Linked DNA regions of Homo sapiens. The protein of the gene in region 3 interacts with the protein of the main gene of each other region in a biochemical or structural test. Each region holds a gene or a part of one and is shown on either strand. Other genes may lie near its edges.

Region 1 (7,026 bases), on a different chromosome or scaffold from region 3:
ACAGCCAATACTGAATCATTTTCCAGCCTGAGTTATCTATCTCCTCAACTGGAATAAAAGCTCAATAATGGAAGGGAAGGATTGTACATTTTCTTTTCCTATTTTCTTTCATCTTACACAAAAGTACATTTCATATACCAGGTATATAATAAATATTAGCTTTCATGGACTCTGTGAGGAACCAACTGTACCAAGGGGAAATATTTACTATTTCACTTTCTTACCTGCTGGGGGCCAGGCCTTGATGTAGCCTGTGCAGTGGACCACCACGAAGTGAGGTTCCCCATCCTTTACAGAGCCAAGTCCATTCCTAGAAGAGTTACAGGAGTTTGAAAAAAAAAAAAAAAATCTACCCGTAAAACTCAAAGGGCAATGCTGCCTTAGTACTTTTAAGTTTATGCTCTTAGGAGTTTAGAAAACAGGATAATCATCTTTCCCACCCAAAAATGACCGCCACATTTTTACCCTTGCCAAAGTAAAGTAACCAAAAGGTATGCAGTAGGAGGAAAGTAGGTAAAATAGCATAGCGACTTCCTTAAACAGGATTTTCAAGAGAAGTTTTAGAAGTTTAGGAAAATATTGCCAGAAAAAAAGTAAGTGGGAGGTAAGGGATGTTAAGTGGGAGGTAAGGGATGCAAGTGAGAGCTGCTGAAGGAACGACTACAGTAAGACAGGTAAAAATGTGATGATCTCTGCAGGTATTTGGCCATCCCTTTGGTTTTCACCACTTAGGATCTCACCTGCATCTGTTCCTCACAAAGCTCAGCCTATTCACAGAAACTGGGTCCACAGAGCTACTGCCACACCTGTTTCAAGGAATAAAGAGATTAAAAGCAATCAGACTGCCCTATCAAAGAACTTTCCACAGTAATAGCAGAATAACATGCTCTGGATACAACCAGACATAGAAAATTGGTAATGCTACTAATAATGAAGGATAAAGATAGGTCAAGTTTAGTATTTCTAAAACTTTTAGAATTTGAAGTCAAAATGTTCCATATGTTCTTCATATGCAAACATTCTCAACATCAAGAGTTGGCAAGCTTTTTCTGTAAAGGACCAGATAGTACATATTTTCAGCTTTGCGGGCCAGAAAGTCTGTTGCAACTAGTCAACTCTAGCATTATAGCATGAAAATAGCCATAGATAATATGTAAAAATATGGGCATGGCTATGTTCCAATAAAACTTTATTTACAAATAAAGGGCTGTGGTTTGCTTACTCCTGCTCTACATTAACCACAACTTAATGTAATTGCTACAGTTCATTATTATCTTGCTCTTGCCTATGTCTTTGCATTAGCCATGTCCACATATTGGGATACTCCTGCCAATGCTACTTTCCCTCTCCCTATCCTTTAAAACAAAAATAAAACTTACATAGGGTTAATATGTGTCATGCTCTGTTCTAAATATCTTTACATATATTAATTCATCTAATCTTCATAACAACTTTATAAAGTCAGTATTAACATTATCGCCAATGTGAGATGATGAAATCAAAGCACAATGTAGTCATGTAATCATCCAAGGTTTCAGAAGATAGCATCAAAGCTAGAATTCAAATCCATAGAATATGGATTAAAACAAAATCCAGCAGTCTGGGTCTAGAAGCTACTCTAAATTACACGCTGGGTGCAGTGGTTCAGGCCTGTAATCTCAGCACTTTGGGAGGCTGACGCAGGCGAATCACTTGAGGTCAAGAGTTTGAGGCCAGCCTGGCCAACATGGTGAAACACTGTTTTACTAAAAATACAAAAATTAGCCAGCTGTGGTGGCAATCCAGCTACTCAGGAAACTGAGGCATGAGAATCGCTTGAACCCAGGAGGTAGAGGTTGTAATGACCCAAGATCATGCCACTGCACTCCAGCCTGGGCAACAGAGCAAGACTCTGTCTCAAAAAAATAAATAAATAAAAATAAAAATAAATCACTAAACCACATAATGTTCAATTTTGTGCCTCTCCAAGCAAACCTTTAATATCCTACCCATAATTTCTAGCAACTATCCTCTCAGTACAATGTAGTCAATTTCCATTATATAGCCTGAACTTTGTGACCCTGAGATGCCTTTTGTACCTGTATAGAAAGGACCACCATATTTTCTACAGAATCCTAAAACGTACAGTATATAATTTATAAACACTAAACACCTACTGAAAGACATAGGAAGTCTCAAATTTCTAACCAAAAAAAAAAAGAAGAAATGGTCTGAGTAAATGGATATTGCCTTGTGTTGTAACAGGGAAAAAGTAGAGGTTTTGTAGTCAGACTACTATGAATTAAAACAAAATCCTGTATCAAACAGTATGTAACAGTGGGAAATTCATTTCTTTTTCTTTTTCTTTTTTTTTTTTTTGAGACAGAGTTTCACTCTTTTTGCCTAGGCTGGAGTGTAATGGCACAATCTCGGCTCACTGCAACCTCCACCTCCTGGGTTCAAGCAATTGTCCTGCCTCAGCCTCCAAGTGGCTGGGATTATGGGCGCACGCCACCACGCCCGTCTAATTTTGTTGTTGTTTTTTTTTAGTAGAGATGGGGTTTCACCATGTTGGCCAGGCTGGTCTCAAACTCCTGACCTCAGGTGATCCACTCGCCTCAGCCTCCTAAAGTGCTGGGATTACAGCCTTGAGCCACTGCACCTGGCCAAGTTCATTTCTTTATATCTGTTTTTCCATCTGCAAAATGGTAACCATCAATCTTACACTACAAGGCAATTGTGAGGATAAAATAAGATGACAGATATAAAGCACCTATCATAGTGTCTGGCAAGTTCAGAAACGTTAGTTCCCTTTCCAAATACTTTATTCTGTGTTACAATCCATCTGGGTATGGAGAGTTAAATTTAATCCACTGGAGCTAATCCAACTTAACTCTGACAGAAATAAAACTCTCAGCTCTTGATCCTTCCTATACCAAATCACAATCCTCAGCTTGACACTCACCTCATTCGGCAAATAAACGATCTCCTTGAGCCCATACACATTCTCATGGAAGACTGCTGACCTTCCTTTTTCACTGTTCCAGTCTTTAGATCCAGGATACGCCCTGAAGGAAGATGTGAAGAGCAGTCTGGAGTGCATTTTTGTGTGTGGGGAAGAGGGGGAGAGATACTGAAGGCAAAGATAAGTAAGCATCCTATTCATGCCCTTAATCTCCTTGCTTATAACAGAACTGACCAAGCAGGAGATGAATTTTTTTTCAAGCCTAAAATACTTCAATTATCATCAATGAATCTCACTCTTAAGTTCAAAGGCAGCATTGAAAATAACATTGTGCAAGGAAAAGTAGGAGTGGAAAGTAGTAGTAGAAAACAAGAGGCAAGGCTATATTCTCATAGCTGATTATCTGTATACACATACAGACATACATACAGAGTAAATGTCATTGGTTGAAAAACAAGTACTTTTCTGTAGTCCCAGCTAATCAGGAGGCTGAGGCAGGAGGACTGCTTGAGGGCAGGAGTTTGAGGCTGTAGTGTGCTATGACTGTGCCTGTGAAGAGTCACTGTACTCTAGCCTCAGCAATAAAGCAAGACCTTGTCTCAAAAAAAAAAAAAAGAATAAAAAGAAAAAATTTTAAAAAGAAAAAAACCAAGTAATTTTATATGTTATAGAAACATATAGATCTGTTTGTCTTCTTTATTATACAGAAACGAAGAACAACTTTTGGGGAAAAGGAAGAACTAGAAAAATGAAATCATAAAAACATAAAGGAGGGGAAAACTGGTCAAGTGTGGTGGCTCATGCCGATAATCCCAGCCCTTTGAGAAGCCAAGATGGGAGGAGGAATGCTGAAGGCCAGGAGTTTGAGACCAGTCTGGGCAACAGACAGAACCTGTCTCTACAAAAAATTTAAAAATTGGTCAAGTGTGGTGACATGAACTACTCCTAGCTACTCAAGAAGCTGTAAGCAGGCAGATTACTGAGCCCAGAAGAGTTCAAGATTACAGTAAGCTATGATGTGCCACCGTACTCCAGCCTAGGCAAGAGAGAGACCCTGTCTCTTTTTTGGGTGGGAAAAAAGGAGGAAAACTAAAGATCAACAACACTAATATGAGTATATTGAAATTTCTTGCATTTTAACTACCAGTTTTTTTATCTGCTTCCACTTTAAATTTTTTTCTAGAGTTGCTCAAGAATAGATATGACTTGTTTCCTCTAGCCAAACTCTGGCCAAAAGACTGAACATAATAAAATAGGGGAGAAAAAAAGAACAACAGTACAGATACAAACAACAACAACAACAACAACAGAAAACACCTTATACATTGACCAATAACCATATCTATAGAATAAAAAGCTGTTATCATTGAACCTAGCACAAAGCCAAGCACCAGGAGGTAGAAAAAATACCAGATAATTATCCATACAAATGAGATAAAAACATGGATAATTCTTTTAGAACGGAAAAAAAAAAGTATTGTAGGTTTGGCTTTTACTGTTCTATTTATACCAATATTAAGATAAATGTAAAATATTATCACCAATGAAATATTTTCTAAGGCTGAGCCACAAAGTAGATAATCTCATATGGATAAAAAGAACTGACTATATTCATTAAAGTAGAAAATTCTTGAAGCCTTGCCAGAGTCAACAAACCAATTTAACAGCTAAAACATCTCTTAAGTCTCAGGAAAAAAACAAGAAAGGACTTCTCATTCATTTCCCATACACATAACTCTCACCTGTCAGGGCATTTTCTGAAGTGGAAAGCTGCTCACGAAGTTTATCCACATCATCTGGGTGCACCTGATCATAGAGTGTGCTGCCAAACCATTCAGACTGTGGCTGGTTCAAAACAGGAGTCACGGAGTCAGACACATACACCACCCTGCCTGTCTCACATGAGACAATAAACAGAAAGCCATCTGCTGCCTCCAAGATCAAATGTTTCAGTTCCTGCGCAAGAAAAAGAAATAGAAGTTAATATTTTACTCTGAAAAAACAAGTATTTCTATTCACAGGAAGAAGTAAGACACTTCAGGCCACATGCATCTCTCCGTAAGCAACTGCTGGTTCACACCTGATCCACAGCCACAGGTTTCCACCCTAAATGTAGTTCATCGATAAGAAAGTTTTTTCTAATACATGTTTCCTCACTTTCTCTATGTCACTATCCACCTCTTCCTCTCTATCTCAGGATTCAAGAAGAATAAAAAGGCTTGGGCTAGGCACAGCGGCTCCCGCCGGTAATCCCAGCACTTTGGGAGGTCAAAGTGGGAGGGTCACTGAGTCCAGGAGTTCAAGACCAGCCTAGGCAATGGGGCGAAACTCCATCTTTACAAACAAACAAAACAAAACAAAACAAAAACAAAAACAAAACTAGCCAGGTGTGGTGGCACACGCCTGTAGTCCCAGCTACTCCGGAGGCTGAGGTGGGAGGATCACCTGAGCCTGGGAAGCAGAGGTTGCAGTGAGCCGAGATCATACCACCACACTCCAGCCTGAGCGACAGAGCAAGAGACCCTGTCTCAAAAAAAAAAAGGCTTACCATGAACAATAATTGACTTCTTAATTCCATCCTCTCTGGTCTCTTTTTAGGATCTTGCTTGACAAATATTCCCACTTTCTCTCTTTCCCTTCAGGCCTATAAAAATGATCAAGTTTTCTCAATTCTAGATAAATCTTCCCTCAGTTTGACCCACCTCATCTCTCTTTTTCAGCAGCAAGCTTATACTAAGAATAATGTTATATTCACTGGCTTTATCCTCTTACCTTTCAATTATTTCTCAATCCCACTTCACTCTCACTCTAAACTACTGTTTTCCTGTTTGGTTTGGTTTTTGTTCTGCCAGGAACAGCATACATATATTTTTAATGAGGTTACTAATGTCCTCCTAATTACCAATTCAAGTCCCTTTTCCTGGGTCTTCATCACTTTATTCAACCTCTCTGCAGAATGTGACAATGTCGTCCATCTTATCCTTTAAATTTTATTTTTCCCTACCTTCTTCTATGAGACTGTACTCCAATTTTTGCTTCCTCTTCTGTTTCAGACTTCCTTTCCTTTGTTCAAGTCTTAAATGTAGACATTTCCAAAGTTCATCTTAAGCCCTCTTTATTAATACCATACTTTCTTCCTGGGAAACCATATTCACTCTTCCCCACTACGAAATAATAACCAAGTCTATAGCCCTAGACATGACTAACGTTTTTTCCTGAGCTTTCAGCAGACTTGAATTTCAAGTATCTGTAAAATATTTATAAATATTCTACCAGCAACTCAACATCAACATCCCAAAACCTGAATCATTATTTCCCTCTTAAAAAAAAAAACCTGCCGTGCTCTTCCAATATTCTTAACAGCATCCTCCTAAGCTAGAAGCCTCAAAATCTAACTATTCTCTCACATTCCAGTGATAATTCAGTTTTATCGATTCTACTTTCCAATGCTTTGTCACTGTCCTAGTCATCTTTTACCAAAACTAATTAAGTAGTCGCCCTGCTTTCAATCAATCCTTAAAATGCTACCAGATCTAATACATTTTTTATGTCTCCCCACTGCATAAAAATTAAAATCTAAATTCTTTAACACCTAAACATTCCATCATTAGATCCCAGCCTACCTTCCTATTATCTACCAAAAACATGCTAAACCACTTGACTTTCTTTGCATAACCCAATTATTCCACACTTCTAGGTTTTTGCTCAAGTGCTTCCCAAAATCCACAACACTACTCCCCAACTCATTTTCCATATCTGCATTTTACAGGATTCATTACAGCACTTCTATTATAGAACTAGTTCTATGTTTAATTTATTTATTTACATGTCTGTTTCCACCAGAAAACCATTTGTCTCACCATTCTTTCTATTTCTCACAGCACAACACACCTGGTTTGCCCACAAAAGGTGCATAACTGGAGTCTGTTGAATACTTGCACATGTACTGTTAGAACATATTAACTATTTCAATGTATATAGCTACAAAGTATGTAGTTTTAAGTAGACCATCCTATTTGGAAAATTCTTATTCCATTTTCTCAAACTATATTCTCTCCTTCTTTCTAATCATTTGATTAAAT
Region 2 (7,026 bases), on a different chromosome or scaffold from region 3:
ATAGAGCTGGATAATACCAGTTAGGAAGCAATAAAGATGAGGTGTGACCACAAAGTAAGAAGTTTTTGCTTTGTTCTTTTTTTTTTTTTTTGAAACGGAGTCTCTCTCTGTCACCCAGGCTGGAGTGGAGTGCGGTCGCGCGCTCTCGGCTCACTGCAAGTTCTGCCTCCCGGGTTCACGCCATTCTCCTGCCTCAGCCTCCCGAGTAGCTGGGACTGCAGGTGCCCACCACCACGCCCAGCTAGTTTTTTGTGTTTTTAGTAGAGACGGGGTTTCACCATGTTAGCAGGATAGTCTCAATCTCCTGACCTCGTGATCCGCCCGCCTCGGCCTCCCAAAGTGCTGGGATTACAGGTGTGAGCCACTGTGCCCGGCCTTTTTTTTTTTCTTTTATTTGAGATGGAATCTCACCCTTTTGCCCAGGCTGGAGTGCAGTGGCCAATCTCGGCTCACTGCAACCTCCTCCTCCCGGGTTTGAGCGATTCTCCTGCCTCAGCCTCCTGAGTAGCTGGGATTACAGGTGCCGGCCACCATACCCAGCTAATTTTTTTTTTTTTTTTTCATATTTTCGGTATAGACGAGGTTTCACCATGTTGGCCAGGCTGGTCTTGAACTCCTAACCTCAAGTGATCCGCCTGCCTCAGCCTCCCAAAGTGCTAGGATTATAGGCATGAGCCACCGCGCCTGGCCTGCTTTGTTCGCCTGCTTTGTTCTTAATGTGGCTCATAAAGGCTATTCCAAAAAAGAAGTTTTGGAAATGTTTTTCAGCAATGGTGATATCACTGGAATATGCATATATTCCTGAAATGATCAGTTTTAAAGAATCATTTGCATGTTTTAAATTTTGAAGCCTGTTTACTTTGTGGTCATACTTGAAAGGTCTGCTATCGAACTACCAATTTTTAATAGCTTGATGAACATTTAGGTTTTTACTATGTGCCAGGTTCTGTCCTAAGTACTTTACAAATATTAGCTCACTTCATAAGCTCATTCTAATGATTATCCCCATTTTACAGGTGAGGAAATGGGGCACTGAGTCATTAAGTCACTTGCCCAAGGTCACCCAAGTAGTGAGTAGATGCATCAGTAGCGAGTCTGAACTTCCAGGTCTGACTTCAGACTTGGGCAGTTTGGCTTCCCGGTCTGGGCTCTTAACCACTATGCTATGCTGCTCCTATGACTTATTCTTGGTTAAATGTTTTAAATTGTTTTGATCTGGAAGAGATGATGGTCCTTTTAGTAAATGATATCCAACATAGGTTATAATACTGTTAGAGGGGCCAATAAGCGGGTTATGAAAATAGCCTATTGATTAGAAAAGTTGTGGTCAACATTCAATTCACATGAGATTCAGCAAGAAAATAAAGAATGTGACCAGGCGCGGTGGCTCATGCCTGTAATCCCAGCACTTTGGGAGGCCGAGGAGGGCAGATCACGAGGTCAGGAGTTCGAGACAGCCTGGCCAACATGGTGAAACCGTGTCCTACTAAAAATACAAAAATTAGCCAGGTATGGTGGTGGGTGCTTGTAATCCCAGCTACTTAGGAGGCCGAGGCAAGAGAATTGCTTGAACCTGGGAGTCAGAGGTTGCAGTGAACTAGGATTGTGCCACTGCACTCCAGCCTGGGCAACAGAGTGAGACTCCATCTCAAAAAAAAAAAAAAAAAAAGAATGTGTGTGAAGTAAAATAATTTTGCTAGAATTACTTGACACTGAATGTAAGTAGTTGGACAAAGAGGATGCAAGGGCTAGAACTAGATTCTCAAAAAGTTTCATGCAAAAGGCTATTTAAAAACCTGAGTTATCAGGGGACACTCATGGAAAAGTTGGTGTTGTATTAAGAATATGTCCCTGTACAAGAACCAGAAGTCAGAGACAAATGGATACTCGCAATACATCCAGAGGGGTAAACAATGCTATTCCTCAGGGATTACTACTTAACTAGGTGCTCTTCAAAGCATTAACTGCTAGTATGTCCTCTGATACTATATAAATGGGTCAAAACCAACAAAAAATACCCCCACATGGAAATGTTTTGAAGTGGACTCCTGAATAACATTTAGAGATTCAAAACAATCCTAACTCTTTTCGTAGAAGAATTGGCCCCACATTCAAACACCTTCAAATAAATGTTAGATGCCAAGGAAGGTATCTAACAGTCATTAGGAACTTCCATAATGATACCGGTTCATGGGCCACACTACTAGCAATATCATCAAATGCTGCACAGTAACAGAAAGAGTACTGAAAACTCAAAAGAAAAATGATCTGACCAGTGAATAAAATGTTCAGTACAGAAGCAGCACTAGGCACTCAGCCCCAGAAAGGCAGATAGGTAATCTAGGGGCAATACAAAGCATAACAAAATATTTAAGGGACTGAGATGGCTGCCAAATCATTATAGGCTAAAAAGGCAAGAAATAATCACTTTGGGAAGACCAAGGCTGAGAGGTATTATCATCAAAGGCTACAAAACCAGAGGGGACATAAAAAAGGAGAATACAATTTTGTTCGCCAAATCCTGGAACCTTCCAAGAGAGCAGCACATGGGACTCAGGGCAAAGCTAAGACCAAAAACAGGAAGTTCATCGATGGCTATAAAGTTATGGAACTTATCCCAGTTGCTTCAAATAAGATAAAATCAATACATTACAAGTTTTAGACTTGAAATCATTAACTTACAAAATGCTTTATATAAGGATCAGGACTTTCTTCTATTGCTTTTTTTATTTTCCTGAGCTTTTAAATTTCTCTTTTTCTTAGTGACAGTAGAGTAACATGTCTTCACCACAACCTCAAATATATCTAGCTTCTCACTTGTGCTCTATGCTATCTGTTCTATGGGATTCCTTATTTTTCTTGGTGTCATCCGTCTGAAGCATTCTATGGGCCTGATGGACTAGGCTTCATCCTGGGACTTTTCATTGCAGCCCTAGGTTGGAGCCCCTATTTCCTGCATCCCATGCTGTCCAGGTCATGGTTTTCTCCCTTCTTTTGTACTTGTCTCAGGAAGTGTGTAGGAGGTAGCCCTCCTGACCTTTTTTTTTAAGTCTTTGTCTAGTACCTTCTGAGTTCTTGTATAAGAAAAAATCTCATTTCCTGAATTGTCTGTTTCCTCTCAGTTCACTAGGTCCTAAAATTTTCTTATTCATGCTACTGGGTTTTCTTACTTGTCAGATGGCTCTTGGTTGTCCATTTATATTTCAGGGCCGGATAATGATGATTTGAGGTAGCTAGTGTGCAGTGGTTATCTCTAAGGTTCTTCCCAATAAATCCCATCAACTCCCTATTCTTTGATGTGGAGCCTGTACTGAGCCTATGTCAGTGACTGAATGTGGCTGCCCATGTATCGGATTAATAATTTTGTCTAACTGATAATGATAGGTTTTCTAATATTGATTTAATATATGGTGGTACATTGTAAGGTGGAAGTAAACTACCCGCACATCTTTTTGCTTACTCCATTCCTGAAGTAGGAATTCAGATGTTAATAAAGTGGTACTTTGAAAGTCAAGAGGGAATATTGAAAGGATGATTATAAATCAGTTCACATATTTATTTATTTATTTTAGAGACAGGGTCTTGCTGTGTTGCCCAGGCTGGAGTGCAGTGGCACAATCATGGCTCACTGCAGCCTCAAAATCATGGCTTACTGCAGCCTCATTGCTTCTGGGCTCAAGCAGTCCTCCTGCCTCAGCCTCCCCATGTGTTGGGATTACAGGCATGAGCCACCGTGTCCAGCCTCAATTCAAATATTTATTGAACTTCCACTGTGTTCTATGTTTGATGATGTGGAGAGATTTAACCGTTCATTCCTTTAAAAAGATTTTTTTTTTTTTTTGCTAAACCTTCCTGAGTGGCTTGTGCTAGATAAACTCCAAGTTCTATGCATCTCCAGGTTTTTATTTATTTACTTTTTTTTTTTTTTTTTTTTTTTAGATTTTTAGACGGAGTCTCGCTCTGTCCCCCAGGCTGGAGTGCAGTGGCGCAATCTTGGCTCACTGCAAGCTCCGCCTCCCGGGTTCACACCATTCTCCTCCCGAGTAGGTGGGACTACAGGCGCCTGCCACCACGCCCGGCTAATTTTTTGTATTTTTAGCAGAGATGGGGTTTCACCGTGTTAGCCAGGATGGTCTCAATCTCCTGACCTCGTGATCCGCCCGCCTCGGCCTCCCAAAGTGCTGGGATTACAGGCATGAGCCACCACACCTAGCCTATTAATTTACTTTTAAAGCTGGTCTTGAGTTCTTGCTGCCTAGTATGGAATAGGTTGAATCAATTATGGTTTAATTCAGTAAATATCATTGAGTATCCACTATTGTGCAGGCATTGGGCTGAGACGGAAATAAGTAAGCCAGCCTAACAGGCAACACAAAGGTGTAAGCAAATGCATTGCCCTGTGGTAATAATATCAGTGAAAGCATGTGTGGGGTACAGAGGTAGCAAAGAATGCAAGAGATTTTAATGCTGTCCAGTTGAGGGCAAGAAAACCTCTCTGGAAAAGATGACAATTAGGTTTTAAGGATAAATAGTAGTTTTCCTATTTAGGGGAGCCACTCCAGGTAGAGAAAACCTGGAGTAGTTTTCCATGCCTGAAAGAGCCTGGTGTGTTAAGACAGTTTCGAACAGTACTGCCAGAATATAGAGTGGGATGCCTGGGGAGGGGGTGCTAGGAAGCAGTAGGCATGCCTCTAGAGTGGGCCTGACGATCAGTTGGGAGTTGTAGGTAGCCAGTCCAAATGTTAGTTAATTAAATCGCTTTTTTTCTCCTCTCTGAATGCCTTGGGAGAGAAGAACCAGGATGAGAGAGAGAGATCATTGAAGTTGGAGATTAGTGGGCTTTTGGAAGGAAGCTTTGGACTTAAAAGATGATTAACAGGAGGTTTTTAGAGATTTGATAATAGTAAATTATTGGGAATGTGGTGCCTGATTTTCTAGTAGGGTCACCTGGCATAAAATGTTCCAAGCAGATGTTTTGAAGCAGTTGTATACCTGGGAAGGGCAGCATGCATGCGGTAGCAGCATCTCTGACAATAAGCTTGTTTCTGTCTCCCGATTCGCAGAAGACCACGTGGCCTTAAACCAACTGCTGCAACTCTGTGTGCAGGATGATTCTGTGGGCCCAAGTCACCCAGCGCCTATGCTGCAACCAAAAGTGCCTCCTGTCGCTTTGTATCAAAGGACCTTTGTCATGATCTCATTCACAATATTGGTGGTCCCTGAGAGTGGAGCAGTGGAGTGATTGACGTGCCTGAGTTTGAAGAGAGTTAACCACTGGAATCTCTCATGTTTTATTCCCTCCAAAATGCTGCAGTTCAGTGTTGTCCCAGATTTTATGCTTGTGCTTAGATTTCTCTGTTCTCTAATTTGTTAAGTTTGTCTTTAATATTTCACAGGCTTTCTTGATCATGGATGGTGAAGATATACCAGATTTTTCAAGTTTAAAGGAGGAAACTGCTTATTGGAAGGAACTTTCCTTGAAGTATAAGCAAAGGTAATGTTGGAAAGCACACTAAAAGTAGGGGAGGGCATTTGGAATACACCGTGTCTTGTTTGTGCATTTTTCTTTTTAACATAAAGCTAAATTTAGAATTGCAGATTTAGGATTCTAGGATTGAGATTCTACAAACAGTCACCACATGGGTTGTATTTAAATAGTGTAAACATGCCATAAGTCTTTATATTGTTCAAATTATTAAAATAGTAGGAAAACTGTCATTTATGATTTCTTCTGATTGTTACCTGTTCTATGCTTTTTAGTAGGCGGGGCCATCTTTGGCCCGTTTTGCATGCACTGATTCTGCCTCATCATTTTGGTCATTTGGAGATTCTGATAAGCTGTCTGGGGCTCCATAGAACAGACTTTACGTTCTCCTCAGGCAAGCATGATCAGTGTCTGGAGCCAGCAAAGCTTTGAGGGAGGGGGAGAAGCTTCAGGGGCATGGAACGTTTTATAAAATTTCAGTTATTTGGTTGGGAGAACTTTCAGGCAACAACCTTTTAAGCAACAAAACTTGTCTCAAATTTCTTTTTTAAAAATGGGATCTTGCTAAATAAAATATTGATACATTTTCCTATTTTGGTTAACAGAGTTTACTAAGTCTTATCAAACCTTTTACTGCCCTTTCATTATTATCACCGAAGTCAGTTATTCTATTGTGCCAGTGGATATGAAAGGTGTGTATCTATGGCAGGGTTCTTAATCTTTTTCTGTGTCATAGATGTCTTAATGGGCTGGGGTAGCCTGTGGACTCCTCAGCATAATATTTTTAAATGCATAGAATAATAGAATTACAAAGAAAATCAATTATATTGAAAAAAGTTATCTAAATATTAAACTAATTTATGGCATAGTAACATGTACTTCTCTATTAATGCATTAAATAAAAAAAGATACAGAAGTGAATGTAATAACTACCTAATTTTGAAATAGTCATGAAAATAAATATATTTAGAGATACATGCAACGATTCTATTGTGATGTGAAAATATGTGTGATTTCTGTTGAATATGGTAGAAGGAAATGCCAAATTTGTTACTTTAATGAAAGTAAAAATGCATTTTTCTCGCATCTGAGTTCTGTGGTGGAAGAAGCTAATGGTATTGAGCCACGTAGCCTTACTTTTCATAAATATTGTAATCACTGACTTGTGGCTCCTTTTTGGGCTTGTCGTTTTCATTGAACCCTGAATATATACAGTAAGAGATGCAAAACAGATTGTCTTTAGTATATTTTATGAGAGCATTAGCATTCAAGCAAAAATTATCGAATTGCTCTATAATCACCTCCAAGACAATCCTTGTGGTTCTTAGTGTAACTCGTCTTTCCCACTTTGTTTCTGATTAGCTTCCAGGAAGCTCGGGATGAGCTAGTTGAATTCCAGGAAGGAAGCAGAGAATTAGAAGCAGAGTTGGAGGCACAATTAGTACAGGCTGAACAAAGAAATAGAGACTTGCAGGCTGATAACCAAAGACTGAAATATGAAGTGGAGGCATTAAAGGTAATTGCAGCAGTAGACGCTGGGG
Region 3 (7,026 bases):
ATTCTCCTGCCTCAGCCTCCCGAGTAGCTGGGGCTACAGGCGCCCGCCGCCACCACTCCCGGCTAATTTTTTAGCCGACCTGATTCTTAACTGCAAGTGGATGGCGAGGCGGTGTCTGTCTTTGCCTAGAAAGGGAGGATCCTGGTGGCAGCTCTTTACTCTGCGGCTGAACTAATCTGTCTGGGCACCCAGGAACACCTCATCTGCATCCAGGGTGGGAAGGGACCCCAGAGGCATGATTTTCTGTTGGTTTTTTGCTGATGTAACTGTTGTTGCTGTTGTTTTGAGACAGAGTTTCGCTCTGTCACCCAGGCTGGAGTGCCGTGGTGCCATCACAGCTCACTGCAGCCTCAACCTCCTGGGCTCAAGCAGTCCTCCACCTTGGCCTCCTTAGTAGCTGGGACTACAACTGTGAGCCACCATGCCCGGCCAATTTTTTTTTTTTTTTTTTTTTTACACGGAGTTTCATTCTTGTTGCTCAGGCTGGAGTGCAATGGTGCGATCTTAACTCACCACAACCTCCGCCTCCCAGGTTCAAACGATTCTCCTGCCTCAGCCTCCGAGTAGCTGGGATTACAGGCATGCGCCACCACACCTGGCTAATTTTGTGTATTTTTAGTAAATATGGGGTTTATCCGTGTTGGTCAGGCTGGTCTTGAACTCCCGACCTCAGGTGATCTGCCGGCCTCGGCCTCCCAAAGTGCTGGGATTACAGGCATGAGCCACCACGCCCGGCTGGCCCAAAACTTTTAAGCAGATTTTAGATGTGCAGAGAAAAGCATAAGGAACAGAATACCACTGATGCTTCTCACCCCCTGAGATAAAATGTCACCAGTAAGTGCAGGCAGCATTTCCTACATCCTTCTCTGGGCCCTGGGTCCGTCTCCCCTCTACCCCTCCAGCCTGAATTTGCAGTTCTTCCCATGTCTGCTTGCTACTTTTCAACTTTGTTTTTTGCCCCTTTTGAAATTTGGTCAAACGAAGCGAGAATGAATCAAACATTGGTTTACAACGACCCCAAGAAGGAAGGGAGACCCAGCAGCAGAGAAGTCGCCTCCCAGCTGCCATGGGTGTGATCCGTCCCAGAGCCACAGATCCCCTGCCTCTCCCCTATGCCTCCAGGATCACCCAGCAGCCTCCATAGGGCAGAGGGTGTAGAGGAGCTGGGAGGGGCTTGAGAGGTTGGCCCTGAGGGGCTCCAGCCAGAGTGACTCTGAGCTTGTGGCTTGGACTCGTGGCTGTCATCTCCTTTCTGGAACTCTGCTGAGGCCCAGGTGGTGGTCACTGTGGTGCTCCCACGTCAGTGGGATGAGACCAAGAGCAGCCGCTGCGTGCAGCTGCCCACGTGTCATTCAGAGGACAGCCGAGTGGCCGCCTGGGAAGGCAGTGCCGCCCCAAGGTGGCAGCTGGGCAGCAGAGGAGTTGTGAGCAGTCTGACAGGTCCCTCACCCTCAGTTTCTCAGTTTTGACATCTTCAAACTTAGAGTTGGAAGAGAAGGGCAGGTGACATGGGCCCCTTATCTGAGGCACTGGCACATGACCCTGCGTCTTCTCAGGGACCTGAAGGCTGGGGAACAGGTGAAACAGTGTTTGTGCCCTCTGTGTTGTAGTCCAGCCCCAACCATCCCAACAGCCGCCTCTTCTGTCAGGGGCCCTGCGCCATGCAGTCCCACATTGTGAGCAGCGAGTGCCCCAGAGACAGGTGGGTCCCTGGGAAGGTGTTCTCTGCACCTGTGCCACTCCACTGTAGCAGGCGCCATCCCAGGGAGGCGTCGCAGAGGCCACTCAGGTCCTTCTGTGCCTGCAGGTGGCATCCTGCACCTCAGCCCTGCCCTTCAGTGAAGGCTTTGACTGTCCCTGGCCACAGCACTGCCAGTCCCCGACTTGAAGGGGAAAGCAGATTCATGCAGAAAACCTTTGTTTACCACGCCCCCTGCTGGCCATCCTGGGGCCTGCAAGTCCCCAGGACTGATCTGTTGGGCATGTCCTCGGGTGAGGTTTAAGCCACAGGACAATGTTGACTGAGCTTTCTTGTTTTGCTTGTAGCTGATGTTTTCACGCAGATTAAAGTGTTATCGGAATGCTGTCAGGTCCCTTAATGTTAGAATTCAGGGTCATTAAGTGGTGCACACCCTTCAGTGATTAGGAGAAACACAGGCGGAAATAATGATTATATGACTTACAGGCCCACAGCAGGCTGGAGGCCACACAGAGGACTGGGGCCAGGCCCTGGAGCATAGGCAGGGGACAGCTGAGAGGGTGGCAGCCAGCCTTGTCTATCGGGGAGTAGGGTGGGGTCACTGTATGCTGGTGGGCAGGTGCTCGAATGGATTTTTTACAGGAAATGGTGGATGCCGGGTGCGGTGGCTCCTGCCTGTAATCCTAGCACTGGGAGGCCGAGGCGGGTGGATCACCTAAGGTCAGGAGTTTGAGACCAGGCTGACCAACATGATGAAAACCTGTCTCTACTAAAAATACAAAACAAAATTAGCCAGACATGGTGGCGGGCACCTGTAATCCCAGCTACTTGGGAGGCTGAGGCAGGAGAATCGCTTGAACCCCAGAGGTGGAGGTTGCAGTGAGCCGAGATCATGCCATTACACTCCAGCCTTGGCAACAGAGCAAAAATCCGTCTCAAAAAAAAAAAACATAAAAATAAAGGAAGTGGTGGGAAATTGAGGAGCCCAGTCTACCAGGTGGGAGAGATGCCTCCAGGCTTCTTTCTCTGGCATCAGCTTGAGGCATTTGGGTGTGCTGTCCCACATCTGACCCCCCAGGCAGCAGCCTGTGCTGTGTGCATGCTGTGGGCCTGGGGGCAGACCTCGTGCATGATGACGAGTGCTGTTTGGGTGGCAGAGGCTGCTGGAGGAGTCTGGGTCCAGCACCTGGCAAAGCGCGTGATGAGCACAATTAAACAGGCAAGCAGCCCAGAGGCACCCCTGTAACTTGGAACCCCAAGAAGCATGAGGGCGGGGTCAGCGAGGAAGTCACGTGGTTGTGTCCAGCCGTTCCACCGGGAGCTGGTCCCTGGGAGGACAGGAAGGAACTACATTGAGGAACTGAGGTGGGGGGTGGAGAACGGGAAGCCGTGCCAAGGGTGACTCAGCCCTGCTTCTGGTGTGAGAATGTTAAACCTATGTTGAGAATGAATGCTGAGGCCCCTAACCTCACCAGGTACTCGCTGCTTCACGTTGATTAAGTCTCTTTTAAAAGCCAACAGCTCATCAAGGAAGTGGATGCCAAAACTACTCATGGAATTCTACAGAAACCAGTGGAGGCTGACACCGACCTCCTGGGGGATGCAAGCCCAGCCTTTGGGAGTGGCAGCTCCAGCGAGTCTGGCCCAGGTGCCCTGGCTGACCTGGACTGCTCAAGCTCTTCCCAGAGCCCAGGAAGTTCTGAGAACCAAATGGTGTCTCCAGGAAAAGTGTCTGGCAGCCCTGAGCAAGCCGTGGAGGAAAACCTTAGTTCCTATTCCTTAGACAGAAGAGTGACACCCGCCTCTGAGACCCTAGAAGACCCTTGCAGGACAGAGTCCCAGCACAAAGCGGAGACTCCGCACGGAGCCGAGGAAGAATGCAAAGCGGAGACTCCGCACGGAGCCGAGGAGGAATGCCGGCACGGTGGGGTCTGTGCTCCCGCAGCAGTGGCCACTTCGCCTCCTGGTGCAATCCCTAAGGAAGCCTGCGGAGGAGCACCCCTGCAGGGTCTGCCTGGCGAAGCCCTGGGCTGCCCTGCGGGTGTGGGCACCCCCGTGCCAGCAGATGGCACTCAGACCCTTACCTGTGCACACACCTCTGCTCCTGAGAGCACAGCCCCAACCAACCACCTGGTGGCTGGCAGGGCCATGACCCTGAGTCCTCAGGAAGAAGTGGCTGCAGGCCAAATGGCCAGCTCCTCGAGGAGCGGACCTGTAAAACTAGAATTTGATGTATCTGATGGCGCCACCAGCAAAAGGGCACCCCCACCAAGGAGACTGGGAGAGAGGTCCGGCCTCAAGCCTCCCTTGAGGAAAGCAGCAGTGAGGCAGCAAAAGGCCCCGCAGGAGGTGGAGGAGGACGACGGTAGGAGCGGAGCAGGAGAGGACCCCCCCATGCCAGCTTCTCGGGGCTCTTACCACCTCGACTGGGACAAAATGGATGACCCAAACTTCATCCCGTTCGGAGGTGACACCAAGTCTGGTTGCAGTGAGGCCCAGCCCCCAGAAAGCCCTGAGACCAGGCTGGGCCAGCCAGCGGCTGAACAGTTGCATGCTGGGCCTGCCACGGAGGAGCCAGGTCCCTGTCTGAGCCAGTAAGTGTGAGGATGGGATGGGGAGCGTGGCGTGGGGCAGCTGCCCTGCAGTGTATGTGGTCCAGGACCCGAGGCCAGAAGTGTCATCAGATACTCCTTTGAGGCCGGGTAGGTTCTGCCTGAGGAGGGGCCTCTGGATAAAAACAGGGCTCAGGTGGCTCCCAGCTGAGGGTGCTTGGCCTTGCCTTGGCTGCCATGCATCTCTTTAGTGCTCCTGGCCTAAGGAGGGATCCAATAAGGGCGGGCTCAGGCCAGAAGCCAAATGCAACCAACCCTGGGCAGGACCCTGTCCCCCAGTCATGTTCCTCCTCAGGTGAACTTGACTTGGGTGTGTAACTCCAAAAGCCAGGCAAAGCCTGTTACTGCCTGGGTGGCGTCCGCTGCTTGCTGGGGTCTTGGCCGTGGGTCTGCTGCCTCCTGGCTGAATGGTCTTAGGCTACATCTCCTAGAGTTGCTCAGTGGGAGATTGTCCTGCCTGTAGGGTCCAGCCCTACTGGGTCTGTGGGTTTTTTCTCCTCGTGTGCATAGACAAGAGATTGTACAAATAAAGACACAAGAAAAAGACAGAAGAAAAGACAGCTGGGCCCGGGGGACCACTACCACCAAGGCACGGAGATCGGTAATGGCCCCGAATGTCTGGCTGCGCTGTTACTTATTGGATACAAGGCAAGGGGACAGGTTAAGGAGTGTGAGCCATCTCCAATGATAGGTCAGGTCACGCAAGTCACGTGTCCACTGGGCCCTTCCCTGTTTGGCAGCCAAGGCGGAGAGAGAGGACAGCTGACGCCATTATTTTTTCTATGTATTTCAAAGACTTTAGCACTTTGACTAATTCTGCTACTGCTATCTAGAAGACAGAGCCAGGTGTACAGAGCGGATCATGAAAGTGGACCAGGAGCGTGACTGCTGAAGCACAGCATCACAGGGACACAGGCCTCTGGATGGCTGCGGGCGGGCCTGACTGATTCCACAAGAGATGGTGGAGCAGAGTCTTCTCTAACTCCCCCAGGGAAAGGGAGACTCCCTTTCCCAGTCTAATTAACGGGTGCCTTCCCAGGCACTGGTGCTACCGCTAGACCAAGCTAGGTAACGGGTGCCTTCCCAAGTGCTGGTGTTACCGCTAGACCAGGGAGCCCTCCAGTGGCCCTGTCCGGGCGTGACAGAGGGCTCACACACCTCTTCCGGTCACTTTCTCACCGTGTGCCTTCACCTCCTATCTCTATATGGCCTGGTTTTTCCTAGGGTTATTTGTTTGTTTGTTTGTTTTTTGAGACAGAGTCTCGCTCTGTCACCCAGGCTGGAGCGCAGTGGCGTGATCTCGCCTCACTGCGAGTTCTGCCTCCCGGGTTCACACCATTCTCCTGCCTCAGCCTCCCGAGTAGCTGGGACTGCAGGCACCCGCCACCATGCCCGGCTAATTTTTTTGTATTTTTTAGTAGAGACGGGGTTTCACCGTGTTAGCCAGGATGGTCTAGATATGACCTCGTGATCCGACCGCCTCGGCCTCCCAAAGTGCTGGGATTACATGCGTGAGCCACCGCACCCGGCGTTTCCTAGGTTATTATTGTAGAACAAAGATTATTATAATATTAGAATAAAGAGTAAAGCTACAAACTAATGATTAACGATATTCATATATAATCATATCTATAATCTATTTCTAGTATAACTATTCTTATTCTGTATATTTATGATACTGGAACAGCTTGTGCCCTTGGTGTCTTGCCTTGGCCCCTGGGTGGCTTGCTGCCCACACCTGCCCCAGCCTCCACATTTGAAGCCTTTTGTCAGTTTCACAGTAAAAGGGATGTACTCATCCTTGTGATTCCCTTTGGCTGCATCGTGCTGACTTTAGAGCTCCCAGCCTGCTTCTCCCAGAGCTGGCAGGCAAGGCGCGTGTTTTCCTGCTGGGTGAGGTTGGTGAGGCAGTTTTGTGGCCAGGTCGCTTGGGACAGCCCCATGCCTGGCACGCTCTAGCTGAATGTTCACGTGGCCGGCACAGCAGTGCAGGGAAAGGCGATGGCAGCTCAGTGCTGGAGCAGGGGACGCCGGGGTTATGGGGTGGGGGGCATGGGCCTCTGCTGACTCTGTCTCCCCAGGCAGCTGCATTCAGCCTCAGCGGAGGACACGCCTGTGGTGCAGTTGGCAGCCGAGACCCCAACAGCAGAGAGCAAGGTAAGGGGTGCTTGTGTGGGTACCTGTGCTCCTGGCCTGGTCGTGTAGAAGAGTAGCAGGCAGTGGAAGCCCCCAGCAGCCTTGGGTGACGGGGTGGGATGTCCCGCTCCCTCTCCCCCAAGTCTACTTCAACAAGGTTGTGGGGAGGCAAAGCCACACCCCAAGTACCTTGACTGCACTGCACAGGGTGACTCTGCCCTTTCCTCCAGGAGAGAGCCTTGAACTCTGCCAGCACCTCGCTTCCCACAAGCTGTCCAGGCAGTGAGCCAGTGCCCACCCATCAGCAGGGGCAGCCTGCCTTGGAGCTGAAAGAGGAGAGCTTCAGAGACCCCGCTGAGGGTACGTTGCCTGGCACAGACGTCACACACAGTCTGCCCGGAGGGGATCCCGTGAGCACTTGGGCAGCTCGAGACACCTGCATCATCGGCAGGTGGTCATTTCGCAGGCAGTTGGGTCCCTTGACTTTGAATGACTCATGCACAAACTTGTGGTTTGTCAAAACTTAGTCAGTGTTAGGAGAGCAGGGCTCATACCTTTAACATAAAAGACTTCTAGAAA

The links. Proteins that work in one complex are often made in the same cells at the same time.
Region 1: the proteins of TACC3 (region 3) and ARNT form a complex in vitro, tested with the Homo sapiens proteins (2 studies listed by BioGRID, with this or other methods).
Region 2: the proteins of TACC3 (region 3) and NDEL1 form a complex in vitro, tested with the Homo sapiens proteins (one study listed by BioGRID).

What each region holds. Positions count from the first base shown.
Region 1 is NC_000001.11:150,831,594-150,838,619, forward strand, and holds part of ARNT (aryl hydrocarbon receptor nuclear translocator), read right to left. Parts: intron 4,901-7,026; coding exon 4,687-4,900; intron 3,048-4,686; coding exon 2,945-3,047; intron 807-2,944; coding exon 741-806; intron 311-740; coding exon 225-310; intron 1-224. UniProt on the Homo sapiens protein: Required for activity of the AHR. Upon ligand binding, AHR translocates into the nucleus, where it heterodimerizes with ARNT and induces transcription by binding to xenobiotic response elements (XRE).
Region 2 is NC_000017.11:8,438,864-8,445,889, forward strand, and holds part of NDEL1 (nuclear distribution protein nudE-like 1), read left to right. Parts: intron 1-5,063; exon of another isoform or gene 5,064-5,286; coding exon of another isoform or gene 5,287-5,313; intron 5,314-5,396; coding exon of another isoform or gene 5,397-5,408; coding exon 5,409-5,494; intron 5,495-6,847; coding exon 6,848-7,001; intron 7,002-7,026. UniProt on the Homo sapiens protein: Required for organization of the cellular microtubule array and microtubule anchoring at the centrosome. May regulate microtubule organization at least in part by targeting the microtubule severing protein KATNA1 to the centrosome.
Region 3 is NC_000004.12:1,724,495-1,731,520, forward strand, and holds part of TACC3 (transforming acidic coiled-coil-containing protein 3), read left to right. Parts: intron 1-3,213; coding exon 3,214-4,293; intron 4,294-6,392; coding exon 6,393-6,468; intron 6,469-6,677; coding exon 6,678-6,807; intron 6,808-7,026. UniProt on the Homo sapiens protein: Plays a role in the microtubule-dependent coupling of the nucleus and the centrosome. Involved in the processes that regulate centrosome-mediated interkinetic nuclear migration (INM) of neural progenitors.